4 separate regions of the Homo sapiens genome follow, and all the other regions are linked to region 1. The links come from fine-mapping of genetic effects on gene expression. A gene starts in region 1. Each other region holds a variant in brackets. All regions are shown on one strand. Distances are between the middles of the regions. Region 1 holds the start of DISC1 (DISC1 scaffold protein). Region 2 overlaps DISC1 (DISC1 scaffold protein). Region 3 overlaps TSNAX-DISC1 (TSNAX-DISC1 readthrough (NMD candidate)). Region 4 overlaps DISC1 (DISC1 scaffold protein).

What was found.
Region 2: its variant is fine-mapped to the expression of DISC1 in whole blood (TOPMed, PIP 0.96).
Region 3: its variant is fine-mapped to the expression of DISC1 in whole blood (TOPMed, PIP 0.98).
Region 4: its variant is fine-mapped to the expression of DISC1 in skeletal muscle (GTEx, PIP 0.92).

The regions. Positions count from the first base shown.
Region 1 is chr1:231,624,207-231,629,206 of GRCh38, forward strand. It overlaps DISC1 (DISC1 scaffold protein), which reads left to right and starts at 2,584. Exons shown (of 13, transcript NM_018662.3): 1 at 2,584-2,728. The coding sequence starts at 2,662. All of the region lies in intron 5 of TSNAX-DISC1 (TSNAX-DISC1 readthrough (NMD candidate)), which reads left to right. RefSeq lists silencers at 2,480-2,739, 3,070-3,129, 4,103-4,303.
Region 2 is chr1:232,027,399-232,032,600 of GRCh38, forward strand. The region is part of intron 12 of DISC1 (DISC1 scaffold protein); the gene reads left to right. The region is part of intron 15 of TSNAX-DISC1 (TSNAX-DISC1 readthrough (NMD candidate)); the gene reads left to right. LOC124904549 (a long non-coding RNA gene) reads left to right here. Exons shown (of 2, transcript XR_007066941.1): 1 at 1-5,202. Among named protein-coding and RNA genes, the nearest start is that of DISC1-IT1, 100 kb to the left of the region's middle. The variant G/C (reference allele first, on the strand shown) is at 3,150.
Region 3 is chr1:231,600,815-231,606,016 of GRCh38, forward strand. All of the region lies in intron 4 of TSNAX-DISC1 (TSNAX-DISC1 readthrough (NMD candidate)), which reads left to right. All of the region lies in intron 1 of LINC00582 (long intergenic non-protein coding RNA 582), which reads right to left. Among named protein-coding and RNA genes, the nearest start is that of LINC00582, 8.7 kb to the right of the region's middle. The variant A/T (reference allele first, on the strand shown) is at 2,285.
Region 4 is chr1:231,796,580-231,801,781 of GRCh38, forward strand. DISC1 (DISC1 scaffold protein) reads left to right here. Exons shown (of 13, transcript NM_018662.3): 8 at 3,529-3,631. It overlaps TSNAX-DISC1 (TSNAX-DISC1 readthrough (NMD candidate)), which reads left to right. Exons shown (of 16, transcript NR_028393.1): 11 at 3,529-3,631. Among named protein-coding and RNA genes, the nearest start is that of DISC2, 19 kb to the right of the region's middle. The variant G/T (reference allele first, on the strand shown) is at 2,970.

The DNA.
Region 1 (5,000 bases):
GCTCAGTGCAGCCTCGACCTCCTGAGCTAGAGTGATCCTCCTGCTTCAGCCTCCCAAGTAGCTGGGACTACAGGTACAGGCCACTGTGCTGGCTAATTAATTTTTTTTTTCTTTATAGAAAGGGTTTTGACAAGCAATGGGTAAAGAATTTCCTAAATGGTGATGGGATAACTGGCTAGTCATATGCAGAAGATTGAAACTGGACCTCTACCTTACAGTTTATACAAAGTTAACTAAAGATGTATTAAAGACTTAATTGTAAAACCCAAAACTATAAAATCCCTGCAAGACAACCTAGGCAATACCATTCAGGACATAGGCATGGGCAAAGATTTCACGACAAAGATGCCAAAAGCAAAAATTGACAACTGGGATCTAATTAAACTAAAGAGCTTCTGAACAGCAAAAGAAACTATCAACAGAGTAAACAGACAACCTACAGAATGGGAAAACAATTTTGCAAACTGTGATCTAACAAAGATCTAATATCCAGCATCTTATAAGGAACTTATATTTACAAGAAAAAACCAAACAACCCCATTAAAAAGTGAGCAAGGGACATGAACAGACACTTTTCAAAAGAAGACATATATGTGGACAACATTCATATAAAAAAAGCTCAACATCACTGATTATCAGATAAATGCAAATCAAAACCACAATGAAATACCACCTAACACCGGTCAGAATGGGTATTACTAAAAAGTCAAAAAATAACAGATGCTGGAGAAGTTGTGGAGAAAAAGGAACACTTTTACACTGTTGGTGGGAGTGTAAATTAGTTCAGCTATTGTGGAAGACAGTGTGGTGATTCCTCAAAGACCCAAAGACAGAAATATTGTTTGACCCAACAATCGTATGACTGGGTATACACCCAAAGGAATATAAATAATTCTATTATAAAGACACATGCACACACATGTTCACTGCAGCACTATTCACAACGGCAAATATATGGAATCAATCTAAATGCCCATCAATGATAGGCTGGATAAAAAAATATGGTACATATATACCATAGAATACTATGCAGCCATAAAAAAGAATGAGATCATGTCTTTTGCAGGGACATGGATGGAGCTGGAGGCCATTATTCTTAGCAAACTAACACAAGAACAGAAAACCAAACACTGCATGTTCTCACTTATAAGTGGGAGATAAATGATGAGAACACATGGACGCATAGAGGGGAACAGCACACACTGGTGCCTTTTGGAGGGCGGAGGGTAGGAGAAGGGCGAGGATCAAGAAAAACAACTAATGAGCACTAGGCTTAATACCTGGGTGACAAAATACTCTGTACAACAAACACCCATGACACAAGTTTACCTATGTAACAAACTGAACTTAAAAGTTAAAAAAAAAAAAGAGGTTCTTATTATGTTGCCCAGGCTGATCTCAAACTTCTGGACTCAAGTGAACTTCCACCTTGGCCTCCCAAAGTGCCTGGCCTTAGATATTCATACATTTATTTATTTTTAGAGATGTGGTGGGGGTGTGGGGGGTCTCTCTCTGTCACCTGGGCTGGAGTGCAGTGGCCCCATCATAGCTCACTGAAGCCTTGAACTCCTGGACTCAAGCAATCCTCCCACCTAAGCCTGCCGAGTAGCTGGGACTACAGGAGTGCACTACCATGCCGGGCAAACACACTGATTTTAAGTACAACTGTGTGCTTTCAGTCTTAAGATCTTCAGCTTTTGAAGGACCTCAGCCTTCCTCTAGTTCTAACTCCTCTCGTTCTAAGGAGATCCTTCCCATTCCTGCAGAACGTCTCCCCAACCCTTCTTCTTCACAGTTCTCCCTCCTATCCCTGAACCATTGCAAGAGGTTTTGTGCCAAGCCTCTGGCACATGGCACATTCTATCTCATGTTGTGATTTCGTTTTCTATGCACGTGCTCTCCTTCTAGCCTGGAGGTGAGCTGCTTAAGGGCAAAGAGCTCATGTGTAGCCCTTCCTTGTACCCATTGTCCTATAGCAGGTGCTACCTAGGGGGTGCTCCAGTAGCTTCCTTGAATGAACCAAAGAGAAGGGGTGAAGGGGGGAGTCAGTTGCCTAGGAGCTTGCATGGACTTCTGTGTCCTGGAACCAGCCCGGAGCTGCTGGAAGATGCTAGAAGTTGGAATCCTATCTCATTTCTAAACATCTGCTCCCACTCATCTCTTTCCAGGGTCATCAGTTATCCCCACTCCTCCCCCCCGCCCCCACTTTGTATAAATGAGCCCCTCACATCCCTCCATCTTCTCCATCACTGTGTGGTCACTTCTTAAATCATGCGTCTGGAAGGCGCCCTCCTGTACCCCATCCTGGAGGCTTCCTGCACTTCCCCTCTTGTTTCTTCCAGAAATGAGTCAGAGTGAAAGCAAACTTTCTGAGGTCCTGAGATCCCGGAGACAGGCTGTGAGGGCCGCTGGCCCCGCCCGCTCCAGCAGCGTGTGTGTGTATGTCTGTGTGTGTGTGTGTGCGCGCGCGCGCGCGCGTCAGGGGCCAATGCTGGAAAGGAAACAGCGGACTCGCTGAGGAGAAGAAAGGAGCCGCCCCCTTCGTCGCCAGCCCCCTCCCCACTTCCCGTCCAGCGCGCTGCTCCCTTCCCCCCGCCTCTGGCCTCGGGGAAGGAGCAGGAGGCAGCCCAGGCGGAGCGGGAGGAGCTGGCAGCGGGGCGCATGCCAGGCGGGGGTCCTCAGGGCGCCCCAGCCGCCGCCGGCGGCGGCGGCGTGAGCCACCGCGCAGGTAGGGGAGCTGCCACAGAGTCCTAGCACGTCCTGGGGGGGTCCTGGCAAGGAGGGCGCGCTCTGGCCCCCAGGAAGTCGCGTAGGTCAGGGCGTGCCTCTGTTAACAACCCCTTTCGAGGTGAGGGAAACTGAGGCAGGACGCGAGGCGTGCGAGGTTGAGAGAAGAGCGAGTCTTGGGCTGCCAGCCCGGCACCAGCGCCGAGCCGGGCCAGGTCCCTGACCCAGGACTGTGCAGCGATCCCCGGGACCCGCAGTTTGCGAAACTGTAGGAGTCTGACCCGCGCCCCCGCTGCGTGTCCAGGTGACCGGGAAAGGTTGCAGAGGCGTGCTTGGGGTTTGGATCCGTCCCCGTCCTGGGACACCTGCGCCGCCTGCACTCTCGTTGCGGTGCGCCCCAGCCTGCGCCCCCTCGGGACAGGGGACGTCCCGCCCGCCTTAACCCCAAGACCCAGCTGGATCTCGGGTTCCACCCCTTCGGGGACCTGGAGGGAGGAGGCTGGGAGCGGGACCAGGAACTGGTGCCTGTGCCTTCCCTAGGGGCTGCTCTGAAATCAGTGTCACCGCCCACTTCCTACTTGGCTACAGTAACGGGGATGGCCCAAGCCGGAGACTGCTCGGTTTCCACCGCCTGGAGCGCGGGTCTCGCTGTCAACTCTTAGTGATGATTGTGGATGGTTGTTTTTCAACAATGACAGGACTTCTACCTTCTCACTCTTAAAATGTGAGGTTTTCCAAAGACAGTGAGATTTGGAGTTAGGGAGTGCTGCCTTGTGTTCTTGCTGGGTGAGGACAGGGCTGGGTCAGTCGCTTAACCTCTCAGAGCCTCAGTCTCCTGAAATGTAAAGGAGAACACTCATAGCCTGGCCTCCATGTGTCGTTAGGTTTGTTGTATGGGAAATCAATTTGCAAAGTGTTATCATCAACTGGACAAATTTGAATTGGACAGCACTAGGACCATAGGAACTGGGGTTTGGAGACAGTCTGCCTGCATGTCAATCCTGGACATGCAGGAGACTATGACAGTACCTGCTTCATAGGGTTGTTATGCGGTTTAACTGTGATGGTGGAAGTGAAGCACCTCGCCCAATGCCTGAAATACCCAGTGCACTCTCAAAAAACCTTAGTTGCTATTTTTCCTAGGCAAAATCTAAATAATTGGGAGTAATGTGAGAATACCAGTTTGATTTGATTAATGCAGGAATAGTAGGGCATTTAAAAACACATGTAGTTCTCCTGTGCTCGGCATGGTACATGAAGTCCTCTGAGGTTCAGTTCTGTGCCACAGAGCAAAAAGAACCGTGGACAAGATACCCGCTTTTCGGGCTCTTTGACTTTGAGCCTGTTTTCTCATCTGTTTACAAAAAAGATAAAAGAAAAATGGGGGTAGTAATTACTGCCTTTTGTACTGATCGCATTGCCTGAGGATTAAATGAGGCAAAAGATCTGAAAGCACCTTGTGGAGTATGAGTCACTATGCACATATAAGACATGATAGTACTAGGAGGGAATGGTAACATCTGCAGGTTTTTAGAACTTACAATGTGCCAGACATTTTATTATGAATTCCTTTGATGAAATCCTCCCTGCATCTTTATGGGACTGGGATTACAGTCCTCATTTCCCTATGACAAAGCTGAGGTTCAGGGTCACCCTGCTTGGTTCCCAAGCTCACAGAGCTCTTAAGTGTAAAGCCAGGATTAGAACCCTGGTGTGGGTGCCACTCACAACTGTGTTCTTGGCCGCTTGCCAAACTGAACTTATAGAGTGGAGCTGTGATTCAGAACAGACCTATATTAGAATTTAGGTAATTTTTTTTTCTTTAGGAGACAGAGTCTTGCTCTGTCACCCAGGATGGAGTGCAGTGGCACAATCATGGCTCACTGTAGCCTTGAACTCCTGGGCTCAAGAGATCCTCCTGTTCCAGCTTTTTGAGTAGTTGGGATTACAGGCGCATGCCACCATGCCCAGCTAATTTTTTTTTTTAGAGTTGGAGTCTTGCTATGTTGCTCAGGCTGGTCTCGACCTCCTGGCTTCAATCATTCCTCCCACTTTGGCCTCCCAAAGCGCTAGGATTACAGGCATGAGCCACCAGGCCCAACCTCCATCCTGCATATCTATAGACCCAAAATGTAAGAGTGAACTGTTAATCCTGGCAAAAGAGGCTTTGGCATAATTTTAATTTCCCTCAGACTTATTTTATAAAATATACTTTAAACTATCTTCTTGTAAAACAAATGATGACAATTTGCAGAAAAGTTATTAAAACATTG
Region 2 (5,202 bases), 400 kb after region 1:
ACTTAATATCCTTGGTGTCACACCTACAAACACCTTCATCAAAACTAGCTGCTAGTGAGCAAGATGGCCTGAGAACATACTGGCTTAGGTATGCATCCGTATGAAGCACTCCATTCTGTGTTGATCTGTGGACGCAGTTTGTCACTGGTTAGTTCTGCTGAGAGCAAATGGGTGGGTACCCAGTGGATGAAGGGATATGCAGCCCTATATCCTTTCAGTTATTTAATCACAAGTTGACACTTCTCTAGCTAAAAACACTTCCCTATTCATTCATCTTTCTATTCAGTAGAATGTCTTTTATTAGATGCGTTTGTGGCAAATTTAGCTATTTTGGTCTTTGCTTGTCATTGCTGTCTTACTTTTTAGAATTCCAGTTTTTACCATACTTTATGGGCTGTGTGTGTGTGTGTGTGTGTGTGTGTGTGTGTGTGTATAAGTAGCTTTGAATGGCCAAGGATTAATCTTAGTCATAAATACTCAGATCTGTGATTTAATGATAGAGCCAATGCTACACTTCCTTCCTTGTTATAACTTTACATTTTTGACCTTGTTTATTAAGCTGGGCAGAAAATTTCTTCAACTTAATCTGCAATGATTTTCACATTGCTTTAGGTAGATTTTGAAAAGCAGATATTCTGTTCTTCATAATTTCCTGCCTCTTAAAAATCTTGTATTTAAGCTATTATCAGAAAGTTTCCCAAAGAAGCATACAAACATAGAATAAGGATGGCGTTTTTATTTATTCCATGTTCATGGGATCACAAATCTTTGAGCACGTGTAAGGGGGTATGGCTTCCAGCAAATGGGCAGGTGATGGGGCACAGAGGAGGAGTCCGCTGCAGAGAGTCAATGGATATGAAGGGGTTCCCGTTCCCCAGCTCAGCAGATGGGCAGTTCCTAAGTGGGTTGTACCTCTGTCTTCAGGTAGCAGTTCTGAGGGCTGCAGTCAGGGTTCTGTACTGGTCTCTTATTGTGAAATTTTCTAAAAGGTTAGTTTGATTCTGGGGAATTGGATCTTATTTTTACTAGAGCTGGGGAGGCAGCTCTAGTAAAGACCCCTGAAAAACAAGGGGTTAAGCAGTATTTAAACAAGATCCTTTTAGTTTTTCCACAGCTGATCCAAGCCAGATTTAATAGCAGCGGGATCATGGACAAGTGATAATGCCTCTTTAAGCATTAGGGTTCCCATCTGTAATGTCAGGATAACATACACCTCTAAGGTTTTTATGGGGGTTAAATAAGGCTATATTCATAATGTACATTTAATATAGCCATGGGTAAGTGCATGATTTTAGGTAGAAAAGTGTTATCCAAGTCCATTTGTCTCACAGTTCTTAGTATATTAGTCACAAGCTCCAAGAACATCCCATTTATACACAAAAAGTTTCAAGGTAGATTGATTCAACTATTTTGTAATAAATGCTTGAAGGAATCAATCAGTAACTCCACAGTGGCTTAGATGAAAAGTCATTTAATTATAATAAAACTTCTATAAATGGATAGGGATTATTATCCCTACTTGACAGTCGAAAAAAACAAGGCTTGGGAACAACTTGGCTGACACAAGGTCATTTCTGATGAGTAGCAGAACTTTTCAGCCACAAGCCCCATGGTCCTATTAGGCCCATCAGAAAGCAGCCATTGCCTATAAGTAAATGGACAGGTCTGTTCCATGGAACACACAATTACTTTAAATTTTTAAGCTATAATAAAAGTATTTCACTGATGTTATGTTTTTTGAGAATTTCACTGATCTCTGTTGTGATAAGCGGAGAAGCACTGGTTTAGGTACTGAAGTCAGCTCTCTCCCTCCCTCCAATAAAATCTACACCACGATATGGATTTCAACCCAGACTTTTCTTCGAATCCCAGTCTTCTGTCACTGATTGAGAATAAATACACAGAAGGTGTCTTTGAATTCATACAAAGCAGCACTTAAATTTGAGTGGAACATTATGCCCTAAGATAGAAAGACATGTTTACAAGGCTCTACGGAGGCTCCCCTACACAAACCAAAGCCGTTGTTTCAAATTAGAGCTTATCTAGAGATTCAGAGAGGCTGCCAGAATCCTCCAGCCAAACTCTGACTGGTTTGTATTTCCATGTTTGATCAAAGATACAATGCTGAGTGTGGCTGAAAGAAACAGCTTGTTGTCAACAATACAGAAGGATTGCACAGTGAGTGCAGTGTTTTGTTTGATTCCATTAAGCATGCTGCCAGAGCCTACTGTGCATGTGAGGTACCCAATTAATCTAAGTCCACATTGGAATGTGATTAATGTAAGCCCACATTGGACGTCCACGTCTGAAAGATTCAAGCCACAGATGCTACCATGGATGTTTATTCTTTGTGTGGAAAACACTCAGTTTTTGCATAAACCATGTGTGTACATAAGGGCTATTAGTGTGGCATCAACAGAGGTTAGGGGTGGGCAGTGGGACTGAGTTTCCAAATAGGTCCTTGTGGCCTCCTGATTTAATATCCGAGTTATGGGCAGCCTCATGGGTGTCTCCTACTTTTATTAAGAAGACACTGATTGACCAATCCAAGGAGGGAGAGGAAAGAGCCTTTGCCTCTTCATCGTCCTGACAGGCTCACCAAATTACATGTAGCATGACCAAAGAACAACACAAACCCATCAGCTACTGTGGCAGCGAGTGTCTGAAAACAGTCTGCACCATTAATTGGGAGAGCTGGTGGTGGAGAGGTGGCTCACGCCTAGTGCCTGAGAAGGGGACAGGAGGTGTGACTTCACGGCCAGTCAAGTCGGGACTTCCAGGAGCATTAGTGTGAGTCTCTAGTGCATTTTCACAGTCATCTGGGGTCCTAATTAGCAGTATGTTTTGAAAAACATTTTGACTGTGTGCAAGGTCTCCTCCACGCTCAAAATATTGTAACCAAAAGCCTTCCAAATTAAGGTGGATTTTTAAGCAGGAATTTTCTCATTTTCTTCCTCCTTCAATTTCTACAACACACTTTCAAAGGAAAAGAAGTACACCTGTGATATGTACATTTTTGGCATATTTCAAAGCCCTCAGGGCAGTTCTGCCTGGCCCTCAGTCATAGACGAGGTAGAGACACTCTGATTCTATTTGTGGTTGTATTTACATCCATGTCTGGGAAGCCCTTATGGAATTCTGTTTCTCTG[G/C]TTATTTGGAGTGCATGGTGCCCAATTGTTTAGTTTTGGTGGTGCTTGAGGGCATGCTCTAAATACATCCAGGTTTGTGCACAAATACCACAGCTCCGTAGGACCCTTGTTTAGTTCAACTTTCCAAATTTTAGCGTGAACAGACAAAGGTAACGAGAGTTTTGGGAGACTGTCCTGCCTCCTTGGAGATGTTTTCCACTTCTAGAGCTGAGGGGCTGGAAGAGGGATCATGAGGATCATGGAGCTCCACTCATGTAGTTTATAGATAAGAAAATCCAGAGCCTGGCCAGGTGCGGTGGCTTACATCTTAATCCCGGCACTTTGGGAGGCTGAGGTGGATGGATTGTTTGAGACCAGGAGTTTGAGACCAGCCTAGGCAACATGGCAAAACCCTGTCTCTATTAAAAATACAAAAATTAACTGGGCGTGATGGTGCACACCTGTAGTCCCAGCTACTCCAGAGGCGTGAGAATTGCTTGAACCCAGGAGGTGGAGGTCGCAGTGAGCTGAGACTGCACACTACTACACTCCAGCCTGGGCAACAAAGTAAGACACTGCCAAAGAAGGAGGGAGGGAAGGAAGGAAGGAAGGAGGGAGAGAGGAGAGAGAGAGAGAGAACAGGAAGGAAGGAAGGGAGAAAGGAGAGACAGAGAGAGAGGAAGGAAGGAAGGGAGAAAGAGAGAGAGAAAGAGAGGAAGGAAGGAAGGAGAAAGAAAGATAAAGAAAGAAAAAGAAAGAAAAGAGGAAGGAAGGAAGGAGAGAGGGAAGGAGAGAAAAGGAAAGGAAAAGGAAAAGAGGAAAGAAAAGGAAAGGGAAGGGAGAGGGAAAGGAGAAGGGAAAGGAAGAGAAGGGAAGAAGGGAAGGGAGAAGAGACAAGGGAAAGGAGAAGGGAAAAGGGAAAGGAGAAGGGAAGGGAGAAGGGAAGGGAGCAAAAGGGAAGGAAAGAAAGAAAGGAAAGGAAAGGAAAGAAAGAAAAGGAAAGGAAAGAAAGAAAACCCAGAGCCTAAGATGACAGTATCTAAAGCTTTGTGTGTGATGGGCTGGTGCAGATATAGTAGTCACAGTTCTTTCCTTAGGCTCTCACTTGGCTTTGGAGTGGGACGGGGAAGAGTTGGAGCCCCACAGTGGGTGGGGGAGGGCAAGGGCGTAGACACAGGGCTGTCCTGCTGCTGGCTGAGCACGAGGTGGGCTTGGCACAAGGTAGGCAACACAGAGTTTCTGTGTACAAGCATCAAATCCTTTGAATCAATCTTGGGTATAGTCAAGGTTTTCCTCTTTGCTCTTGAAAGACTGTGATCCTCATGGCTTTTCCATGAGGATCTCCAGTACCAAATTCTCCAGCACTATGGGCTGTAGTGGCTACCCAGGAAGGAATGGTGGTAAGAAGAAATAATGTAGCAAAAGAGTAGCACTTTCAAAGGATAAGAGAGTCCCTTATCTGAAATGCTTGGGACTAGAAGTGTTTTGAAGTTCTGCTTTTTTTCAGATTGTGGAATATTTGCATTATACTTACCAGTGGAGCATACCAAATCCAAAAATCCCAAATCTGAAATGTTCCAATGAGCATTTCCTTTGAACATCACGTCAGTGCTCAGAAGGTTTTGGATTCTGGAGCATTTCAGATTTTGGATTTGGGGATTTGGGATGCTCAACTTGTTCTATTGTTTCTTTTTGAATCAAACTAGGTCAGATGAACCGAAGACCTAAATTTGACTAAGCCATTGAAATGCTTACTTGGACACTTCATTAACAGTAAAACACTCAATTGTTTTCTTATAAAAACAGAAGACTCCATCTAAAGAATTCCAGGATCTTTTGCAAATGGTACCCCAAATGACAATATTGCCTTATCATCTATTCCTGAATGCACCTGTCCTGCTGTCTTACTCCTTTGCTAATTGCAAACACAGACATTTTAACAAGTTACATGCTTACCTACCATGTGGATAGTCTATTCCAAGGAGGTACAGAATGGCCTTGGGTTCCAAAGGTGTTTTAAAGATGTTAGGATGTTCATCCCTGCGACGTTGTTATAATGAATCTGCTAATTTTC
Region 3 (5,202 bases), 23 kb before region 1:
TAAACTTTGACATCTGGTTTTTATCTTAAGTCTGTTTCTTTGTCTTGTCACTGTGGAAAAAAACCCGGAAAAGTCTTGAAAGCTAATTAGCTCCAAATTTATTTTAGGAATGAAGGGCCAAAGAGTTTTGATGACAAATTTTTCTTTGTTGCAGCTGCCAAGCTGGTCTCTGACCCCTCAATTTAATGGAAGTGATTATTTATTTGCACATACGTCCTTTGTTTTTTTCAATACAGAACTCTCTTTCCTGGAAATAGGCACCTAGCTTCTAATTCCCATTTGCAAAGAATTTGCTGTCTTAAACAAGCTTTAAAATACTGTACTAAACATCTCTTTCAATATATTCCTTTATTAAACTGATTTCTAGGCTTTATCAGAGGGAATGTATAATAATAATATGTATTGTTTTTTGAGTTTACATTTTCCTTCAAATTAAAAAATTTTTTTCTTATAAGACTAATTTCCCACCCAGTTTACATATTCTTAGTGGGTGTGCATGCAAACACACACGTATGTACACATATACACACACAGTTTATACATTCTTGTCTTTTTCATTATATTTATGAATATGTTATTTTGGTATAGGTGTAAATGAAAAGTTATTAATTTCAGGTTATTGATTGTCTATTATTTTGAAAGACCAAAGTTTGACTTAATTCCACTTATCATAATCACAAAACTTCTGGTGGGCTATCTCATCCTTTTAAAGCAGTTAAATAGCTTTTATATAAATATGAATATATAATATGTACACAAATGTATGTACCCATACATATTTGAGAAATATATATAATACATATGGCATATATATGAAAGCACCACTGAATCAGACACATTATATACATTTCTCTTGATTTTAGAGCAAAAAGCGTTTAGGGGGAAATGTATAGGCTGAAGTTAAAGATTTGGGAACTCAGTGGTCATAAAGTTGCTGGTCTAATGATGTCAATGTCAGTCCTCCAGCCTAATGGGAAAGGTATGGAGAACCCCTTAGCTTTCTTCTCAACAGAACTTGTCTCCTTTTCCTCCTCTGCACACTGTGAGACTTTGTAGGACTTAGAAGGCTATGTCTGTGAATCAGCCAGGAAATAGATCTCTCTGCTGGGCTTAATCAACCTCTGCTGCCCTTAGGTCTTCGCAGAGGTCCTGGGATTGCAGGTTCTGGACCTAGCCCAAGGAAGCTCAGTTTTTCCTTGCCAAAATCTACGCAAATAACATCCAGAAGTGGATCACTTTTTCTTTTTTTTAAGAGCATGAATTTAAGTGTCACTCATTCTCCCATGTAAACATTGGCATAAATAGCTGATTTTATCCTTGGGATGGCATAGTCTATCCCACGACTGCCAAAAGAACCTGGACCCTGCCATGGTAAATAAACCCCTCATCTTGCCCAAGAAGAAGGACATTTATATGGTTATAAATACCTACATTTTATTACAGGCTTAAAATTTGATACAAAATGTAAACATTGTGTTTGGCATAGTTGGGAGTAAATTTACATTGCTAATGGTTGCAAAACAAAAATAAGCTTTAGTTAGCAAAGAAAACTTTAATAATTCTATTGAAAATAAATTTTACTGCTATGGCAACTGTAGAACAAAGATAATAAACAAAAGATAACCATGGCGTGAAACCATATCACATTTGTGGGCCATGGGCTGGGAGATTGAATCCTTAGTACTTCTTATGAAAACACAGTGCTTCAGTCAATTTCTGGATCTTACTATCGGCATACTGTTATGAAGACACATTATTCTGCTTAGTCTGCTTGCCTTTTAGTGAACTTAGTTATATTCATGTCTAAAAAAACCTGTAAACTTATTATGCATGACTCATTTTTTCATAGTCTTCAAAATGATTGTAAGGATAGATAATGATCTAGTAAACTAATGTTACAATTAACTATTAATCATTGGCTATTTAGATTTATAGTTTCACTTTTGTAGTTTTTGCCTCTATTGACATATTTTCTAAGGATAAATTTGTAGGAATAAAATTCTTGTGTGAAGGGGTTATTGATATTTATTTTTCTTTTCTTTTCTTTTCTTTTTTTTTTTTTGAGACGAAGTCTAGCTCTGTCACCCAGGCTCCGCCTCCCGGGTGCAAGCGATTCTCCTGCCTCAGCCTCCTGAGTAACTGGGATTACAGGTGCTAATCATGCCCAGCTAATTTTTGTATTTTTAGTAGAGACAGGGGTTCCACCATGTTGGCCAGGCTGACCTCCTCAAGCACTCCTGACCTCAAGCAGTCCGACCATCTCGGCCTCTCAAAGTGCTGGGAT[A/T]AAGGCGTGAGCCACCACGCCCGGCCCATTTATTTTTCTTATTTAAACATTTTCTTCCTTTGACTTGTTTGCTTGTGTTTGTTCTCAGTTTTTAGAATCATTAAACATTTTGGCCATATAGAAAAATATACAGAAGCCTGGCCGGGCGTGGTGACTCACGCCTGTAATCCCAGCACTTTGGGAGGCCGAGGCGGGCGGATCAGGAGGTCAGGAGATCGAGACCATCCTGGCTAACACGGTGAAACCCTGTCTCTATTAAAAATACAAAAAATTAGCCGGGCGTGGTGGCGGGCTCCTGTAGTCCCAGCTACTCGGGAGGCTGAAGCAGGAGAATGGCGTGAACCCGGGAGGCGGAGCTTGCAGCGAGCCGAGATTGCGCCACCGCACTCCAGCTTGGGTGACAGAGTGAGACTCCGTCTCAAAAAAAAAAAAAAAAAAAAAAAAAAATACAGAAGGCTTTTATTTTATTTATCTTTACGACCTTTTCCCCTGTTGTTTAGGCACTTGTGTGAGCTCAAGAAACATCTAATGAATCAAAAGATAGTCCTTTGGTGCTTTAGAAATGTGGTTTTGAGATTAAGTCAAATCAATAAGTCTTTATTGAGCGTGTGTTAAGTACAATAGCACAGACCAAAGCGCAAAGAGATTCTGGGGATTTCGACTTATGAGTTAATTCAGGCTCCACTAGGGCAGAAGCTGTTGTTCACTTTTCTCCTTCTTGGGTGACAGGTGGGTCTGCATCACAGCTGCTCTGGAGGAAGAGCAGCCATCTCTTCCTGCTGTCACCATTGCCTTGGTAGGACTGGTGTGTGTATGGGTGTGTACTTGTCTTTCTTAACCTTTCACTTTTGAAGATCTTCCTTCTTCATCTTGTCCTGCCCTCTGGAAGGTGAGAAGTTGCTTGTGTTATCTCCATTTGTGTGCAGTCTAAAATGGCTACAGGGCATTCTAAGCAAAGGGGCTCGAGGAGGAGATGTTGGATATCTCAGGAGAAGACCCTGAAGAAATCCCTTCTCCCTAGAGGAAAAAAGTCGCGGGCAGCAATCGAGATGGCTCTACCGAATAAAGCAGTTTTTAGTCAACTTCTACCACCTAGTGGCCATTTCTGAGAGGCTCTTTTCCCCTTTATTTATTTTTAAAAGTATTTTGACATATGCAAAGACATTTGTATCTGTCAATCCATGTTTTCTTTAAAAATGTCAAGATCAAAATAACACAGTGTCACAAAGAGAAGTAATCATTGCAAGAACTAAAACCCAGAGATGCTTAAAGATGGTTCTTGGGCAACCACTTATATTTTAGTTTGTTCCCTTCAGTCCTATTTGAATTTTTAAAATTCTATTTGAATTTTTATTGTCACATGTGTATGATACTTTTATAATATATATTTTAAGTTTTTAAATTTATAAAGGTCTTTTTAATATATAAATAGAGCCGGGCAAGGTGGCTCATGCCTGTAATCCTAGCACTTTGGGAGGCCAAGGCTGGCAGATCACCTGAGGTCAGGAGTTCGAGACCAGCCTGGCCAACATGGTGAAACCCCATCTCTACTAAAAATACAAAAAATTAGCCAGGGATGGTGGTGCACGCCTGTAATCCCAGCTATTCGGGGGGCTGAAGCAGGAGAATTGCTTGAACTGGGGAGGCAGAGGTTGCAGTGAGCAGAGATCTCGCCACTGCACTCCAGCCTGGGCGACAAAGTGAGACTCAATCTAAAATATACATACACACACACACACACACACACACACACACGTTTTGAGGGGTGTTAATTTCTGGCAATTAGTGCAAAAGGTGTATTAAATATGAATGTGAAAAAAGTTTAAAAGGAAAAATTTTAAATGTTTGTTTTTCAGATAACCTTATATAACATGGGAAATAAACATTACTTAAAAATTTACTTCATTTGCTCCTACTTCACCAAATCAAATGGTTTCCATTTCTCAGGTTGTTTTCATTCATTGATCGATATGCAAACGTAGTTTTTCTCTCATATATAACAGTCCATCCAGATTTTCTGACATGGGATCAGAATCTTTAAATGCTTCATTATAGAAACATCACCATCTACAAGGGGGCATGAGTGAAATCAGTAGAATTTTCTTTGCTTGAGATCTCTTTTGCCAGAAGGGCAAGTGGCTTTTGTCAAATGAATTGTGTTTTGATGAAACAGTGTAGCTGATACTCAGAAGCCTGGAGCAAACCTTCTGGTACAGGAGAGGGCCCTTCTGTTGTGTAAGTTTTGCAGTAGCACAGACTGCATTTTTAGCTCTGACACAGTCTTCGTGATTTTGGACAAAAACTAGACTTTCAGACTCGATTCCTTGGTGCATTAGTTTGCTAGGACTGCCATAGCAAAGTACCACAGACTGTGGCTTAAACAGCAGAAATGTATTGTCTCACAGTTCTGGAGGCTGGAAGTCTGAGATCAACGTGTTGGCTGGGTTGGTTTCCTATGAGACTGCTTCTCTTGGTTTGCAGGCAGCTGCTGTCTTGATGTGCCCTCACGTGGTCACCCCTCAGGGTGTGTCTGTGTCCTGTGTCTGTGGCCTCATCTCCTCTTCGTATACGAATATCAATCATATTAGATTAGGGTCCACCCTTAATGACCTCATTTTAACCCAATTGCCTCCTTAAAGATCCTATTTCTAAATACGGTCACATTCAGAAGCACTGGGGCTTAGGGCTTCAGCACTTGAATTTTGGAAGTCACAACTCAGCTCATAGTGCCTGGCTTGGGAATATGGCTAATAATTTCGCCTGGCAGAATTGTGCAGTTGTGAGGTCATGTTTAGAAAACTCCTGGTGTGATGCCAAGGTGCACAGTAGCTGCTCAATGAACAAGCTGTTATTCCTACTTCAGTTTGGATTTTGAATATCAGATTTCCTTAAAGTGAGGAGCCCCTATAACAGAATCC
Region 4 (5,202 bases), 170 kb after region 1:
GAAAACAACACCCAGTGATTTTGCTAAAGGTCACAGAGCCGCAGGTTTGATGGGTAATTATAACTTGTGTACAAAGAGAGCTTCCTGTTAGGAACAAGTGGTGCCCGTAAGACAGCATCGGAGCCAGGGACCCAGAAATGCTTGACTTCTGCTCTGCTCACCCAAAGGTTCTTTCACCCAGGCTGGAGTGTAATGGCATGATCATAGCTCACTCAGCCTTGATCTCCCGGGCTCAGGTAATCCTCCTGCCTCAGCCTCCCAAGTAGCTGGGACTACAGACACATGCTACCTTGCCCAGCTAAATTTGTTTGATTTTCAGTAGAGACCAGGTCTTGCTAGGTTGCCCAGGCTGGTCTTGAACTTCTGAGCTCAAGCGATCCTCCTGCCTCAGTGTGTCAAAATTGGGATTGCAGGCAAGAGCCACCGCACCTGGCCTCTCTTACATTTTCTGCTGTTTATCAGGTGCGTCCTGATTTCTATGTAGAATTAAAAGATGGGAGGACTGTCTTGGGTCTGAGTTTATTGACTATCTTCAGAACATACTGTATGGGTAATATGAATGCATCTGTACACCAACGTTGAGGATACAGGTGTGCCTATTATATAATGCAGATGGTGCTTATATGGGTGTGTGTATGACACTGTATATTGTGGATACACACATATACTGATACGCACCCAATATTAGGATTTGCTGAAAATTTCCAACTACTATTAAAGATCTTAGATTTTCCCAAATATCAAAAATGGGTTGTTTTGTTTGCATACAGTCCTACTCCATTTGAGTTGCTATAACAAAGTACTGTAGACGAGGTGGCTTATAAACAACAGAAATTTAATTCCCATCACTTTGAAGCCTGGAAGTCTGGGATTAGGGTTCCAGCATGGCTAAGTTCTGGTGAGAGGCCCTCTTACAGGCTGCAGACGGTTGACTTCTTGTTGTATTCCTGCATGGAAGAAAGAGGGCAAGGCGGGGTCTCTGGGGCTTCTTTATAAGGGTACTAATCCCCTTCATGGGGGCCCCACCTTCATGACCTGATCACCTCCCAAAGGCCCCACCTCCTAATGCCATCACCTTGGGAGTTAGACTTTCAACCTATGAATTCTGGGGGGAAAAAAACATCTCCAACCATTGCACATACCTTCTCTAATACATTTATAAAACTTTATAATTACTTCGCTTTTCCATAAAATTAAGGAACTCACATCTTTGATTTTAAAATGTAAACATAAAAGCCCCATTTGATAATGAGTTCCTTGGTGTCCAATTTTATTTGTAAATAAAAAGGATACACAGGTTTTCCGGGGATGTGTATGTGTGTGTGCAGAGGTGGATAGGTGTGTGTGCACAGACACGAATGTGTGTGTGTGTTGTGGGCAGGGGCCTATATTAGTCCACAGAGAATTAAAACAAAACTGTCCAGTCACACAAAACACCTTTCTCTGTACTTTAAACTAGATTGACCAGTGACCATGAGCTGAGACCAAGGTCTCAGCTTGACATAGCTTTCTTTCTCTAGTGTGTTAGACACACCACACACACACACACACACACATACACACACACCCCTACCTGATATTCTTTAGACTCCTGTCTCAGAAAGAAATGAAACCTTCCTTGCACTCATTACATTTCTTAAACTCTTATGGGTTACCCAAACCAAAAGTAATTAAGGGATAAATGAGATGGAAGAAACAGTTGGAAATAAATGGGATATCTGGAGATTGGTAGATATTAGATTACATCCAGCAGAGCCTGAAAGAATGAACATTGCAATTTAATAAGAAGATTCAGAAAGGTTGTTTAGTATTAATATTGACAGCTTGAAAGATAGATTTGCTCAACAAAGGAGAAACTGACTCAATTATGATTAACAGATACTGTTCACTAAAATCAGAAATATTGGACATAGACTGGATGAGACATAAGAATTATGGCTGGTATTACAGAGTTAATGGAAATGCCCTCAGACCTCAGATGACATTATTAAATAGATAGGATGGGATGTGCCAGTCATCTGGTTTGAGCCAAACTAAGACTTGGTGCTGGGGGAAGGGATATCTTCCTTTTAACTCTGAAAAGTCTCAAGACTGTTGAAAGGGTCTCGGAATTAATTACTTTGGACATGCGGATGCCCAACATCACCAGTGCATGCTTTGGTTTAGAGGCTACCAAACTGTCGTCTTCATCCAGAGAATGATTTTTATAAAAAAGATGTTGGAAAATTACAGCCACTGAATAGAACATATGGAAGTCCATGAGAGAAAGAGTGGAGTATTTTAGGCAGGATGGATGAGGTCTGCTTTGACTCCAAAAATAATCTCAATTCAAACTGATATAAGAAAACATTTAAAGTTGATGGTGTCCCACAAACCTTAGATTCTTCTGGGAAATTAAATTTTTCTAGGTAGCTCATTAATCTGAGTCTAGATAACATTGGCATATGAAAAGTCTTGAGACTGTTGAAAGGGTTCAAAAAAGGAAAAAAATGTGATGTTTTAGCCTCCAACAAAATAAAAGATAACCTAAAGACATTTGGAAAAAGAAATTAAGATTTAAGATTTTTGCTATTTTTGAAAAACCAAAGAAAAAAACTGTAGGATGTGTTTGGAATGTCATGGGAAAATACATGATAAAACTCTCAAACCTCACTGAGAGTTACTTGTCTATTTTTCAAATCTGACTTGCCAGCAAGTATCTATCTGCCTTCAAAGTTTCCCTAAACAGTGTCTATTAATACTAGTAATTAAATTTAGCTTGCAGCTTTGACCTTCATCTCAATGGCCATATCTTTATTCACTGCGTACTATGTGCCAGGCACAGAGCAAAATCCCTGCTCACATAGAGCTCGTATCCCGGCAGAGAGACAATGTGGAAACAAAGGAATAGAATTACATGGTGTATCATCTGAGAAGAAGCTGTGGAAGAACATCAAGCGGAGGGAGGGCCAAGGGAGGTTGCTATTTTG[G/T]GTGGGTAATCAGTAAGGCCTTTCCTCCCAGGCAGCGACTGAGCAGTCTGGAAGGGTATGAGTGAGCCAAACCACCTGGGACTACAAAAGTGATGCAGACAGGAGGATTCGGCAGAGGCCTGGAGAAGGCAGGAGGCAGGAGTGATGCAATTATGTTACCTTGTGGTTGCTCTCTGTTAGCTCCTATCAGTTTTGTAATTGGATGTGGGGTGATGATGGGCATATGCTTGGAATATGCCATTGCTCACTTTATTTTTGTTCTTCTTCCTACATTTCCCTCCCTCTTTCCCTTCTCTTTCCTTCCCTTCCTTTCCCTTCCCTTCCCCTTCCCCTTCCCTCCTTCCCTTCCTCCCTTCCTCCCTTCTTCCCTTCCTCCCTTTCTCCCTCTCTTCTTTGTCTTTCTTTTTCCATTGCTTGCTTTTTGAACATTGTCTTCCAATTACTTTTCATCACCCCTTTTAATTACTTACAAACCCAGAAATCTCTGACCTGGCTGTTCCACTGCCTTCTGATTTTTAGCTGAATAAATGATGATTCCTGGTCATTTCTCTCCCCCTAGGTGTGTATGAGTGAGAAATTCTGCAGCACCCTGAGGAAGAAAGTTAACGATATTGAAACCCAACTACCAGCCTTGCTTGAAGCCAAAATGCATGCCATATCAGGTAACTGGCAGTGTAGGAGACGTTGAAGCTATCCAACTAAAATAATGACAGCTACCAGCACATCGTGTTTTGTCCTCGATGAACATTCCACTGTTATTATGTCATTCTCAGACATCTGAAAGCTTTTCTGGGAAGTTTCACTAATATGCACATAATATAGCACAAGGTGTTTAAGTGAGTACCGTATTTGGGATTTCTAGTTCCTGTTTCTTGAAGAGTTTAGAGACTAAATGTACTCTGTGTGCCATATGATTCTAGCAGATGTGTATGTAGCATTGTGTATCTGTAAATACTGAATGAGGATTATTGGGTGTGATCAGACCCTTTCTATAGAGGGAAGGATGGTAACATGAGACAAATTAATGTCCTCAGTTTGAAAATCTAGTCATAGAAACTTGGCGAATCCTCAAAGGATTATGCTCCCTCTTACTCTGGCAGTTATTAAGGAATTGATTTTTCCATTAATTAGTAGCTTGAAGTCAAGAGTCTCTGAAAACAGTATCTTATCCTATCATTAGTGCTTTCAAACACTCCTCTGGATTTGTTATTTTATTTTCACAATTGCTATATTAGGTAGATGGGAGAGAGACCGTGATCCGAATGGACTGATGGGGAGGTTGAGGCTGCGGGATGTGTCCTTTGGTTAAGGTCACTCAATTAGCTAAGCAGTGGCAGATCTGGGGCTAAAGTCCAGGCCCTCTCTCGGTGTATTATATATGGATTTTTAACCCAGTTATGTAATGACAGCTTCAAAAAGTTCTCTGAGTTTTATAGGTTGAATGGACCCAGAGCTCATCAGCTTCAAAAGAATCATAAAAATTTAACAAAAAGTTATAATAATTACATGTATGTGTTTTAAATGGTATTTTAAGAAGGAATACAATAATTGGCAGCTTCTGCTCCTCAGATCATTAAACAACTAATGTTGGCAGCTAAAGAGCAATTTGGTCCCTGGTGCAGTCACGCGTATTATTTACAACCAGTAGAACATGGCAGCGCAAATGTGGGGCTTGGCTCTTAACAGCTTCACATGCCATTTACTTGAAATTATGGGCCCATTTGCTGAGAGAAAAAAAAAGAAGATTGAACACAGTCTTGCTTCTGAGTTAGGGTTTTTGCCTTTCTTAATCAATATATCTTTCCCAGGAATACCGGTGGATGAGTCTGTGTTAAGCCCAAGGGAAGAAATGTATAATTCAGGCAGCAGAGATAGCCTCACTCCAATGTGAACAATCTCTCTTCAGACTCCAGGGAAAATGCCCAAGATGGTATATTGCGTATGGCGCAGGTTTCCTGTTTTAGCTCTTTGGTCAGCTGAGAAAATTGGTGAGGCCTGATCTGCTGAAGGATGACCTGAATTAACCCTCCTGGTAACTGACCTTTTGACCTCACTATTTTCTGGTTGCTCTGTATGCTCTTTGGTGGACCGGCCTTTCAGTCAATGGGCTGTCCCCATAGGTGATACTAGTGTTAAGGTGGTCAACATTTGTTTGCAACTCCTGCATATAATGCTATTTCTGTTTTCTCCTGTTTCAATACCTTCAGAATGGGCAAACCCTCACTCCATTAGG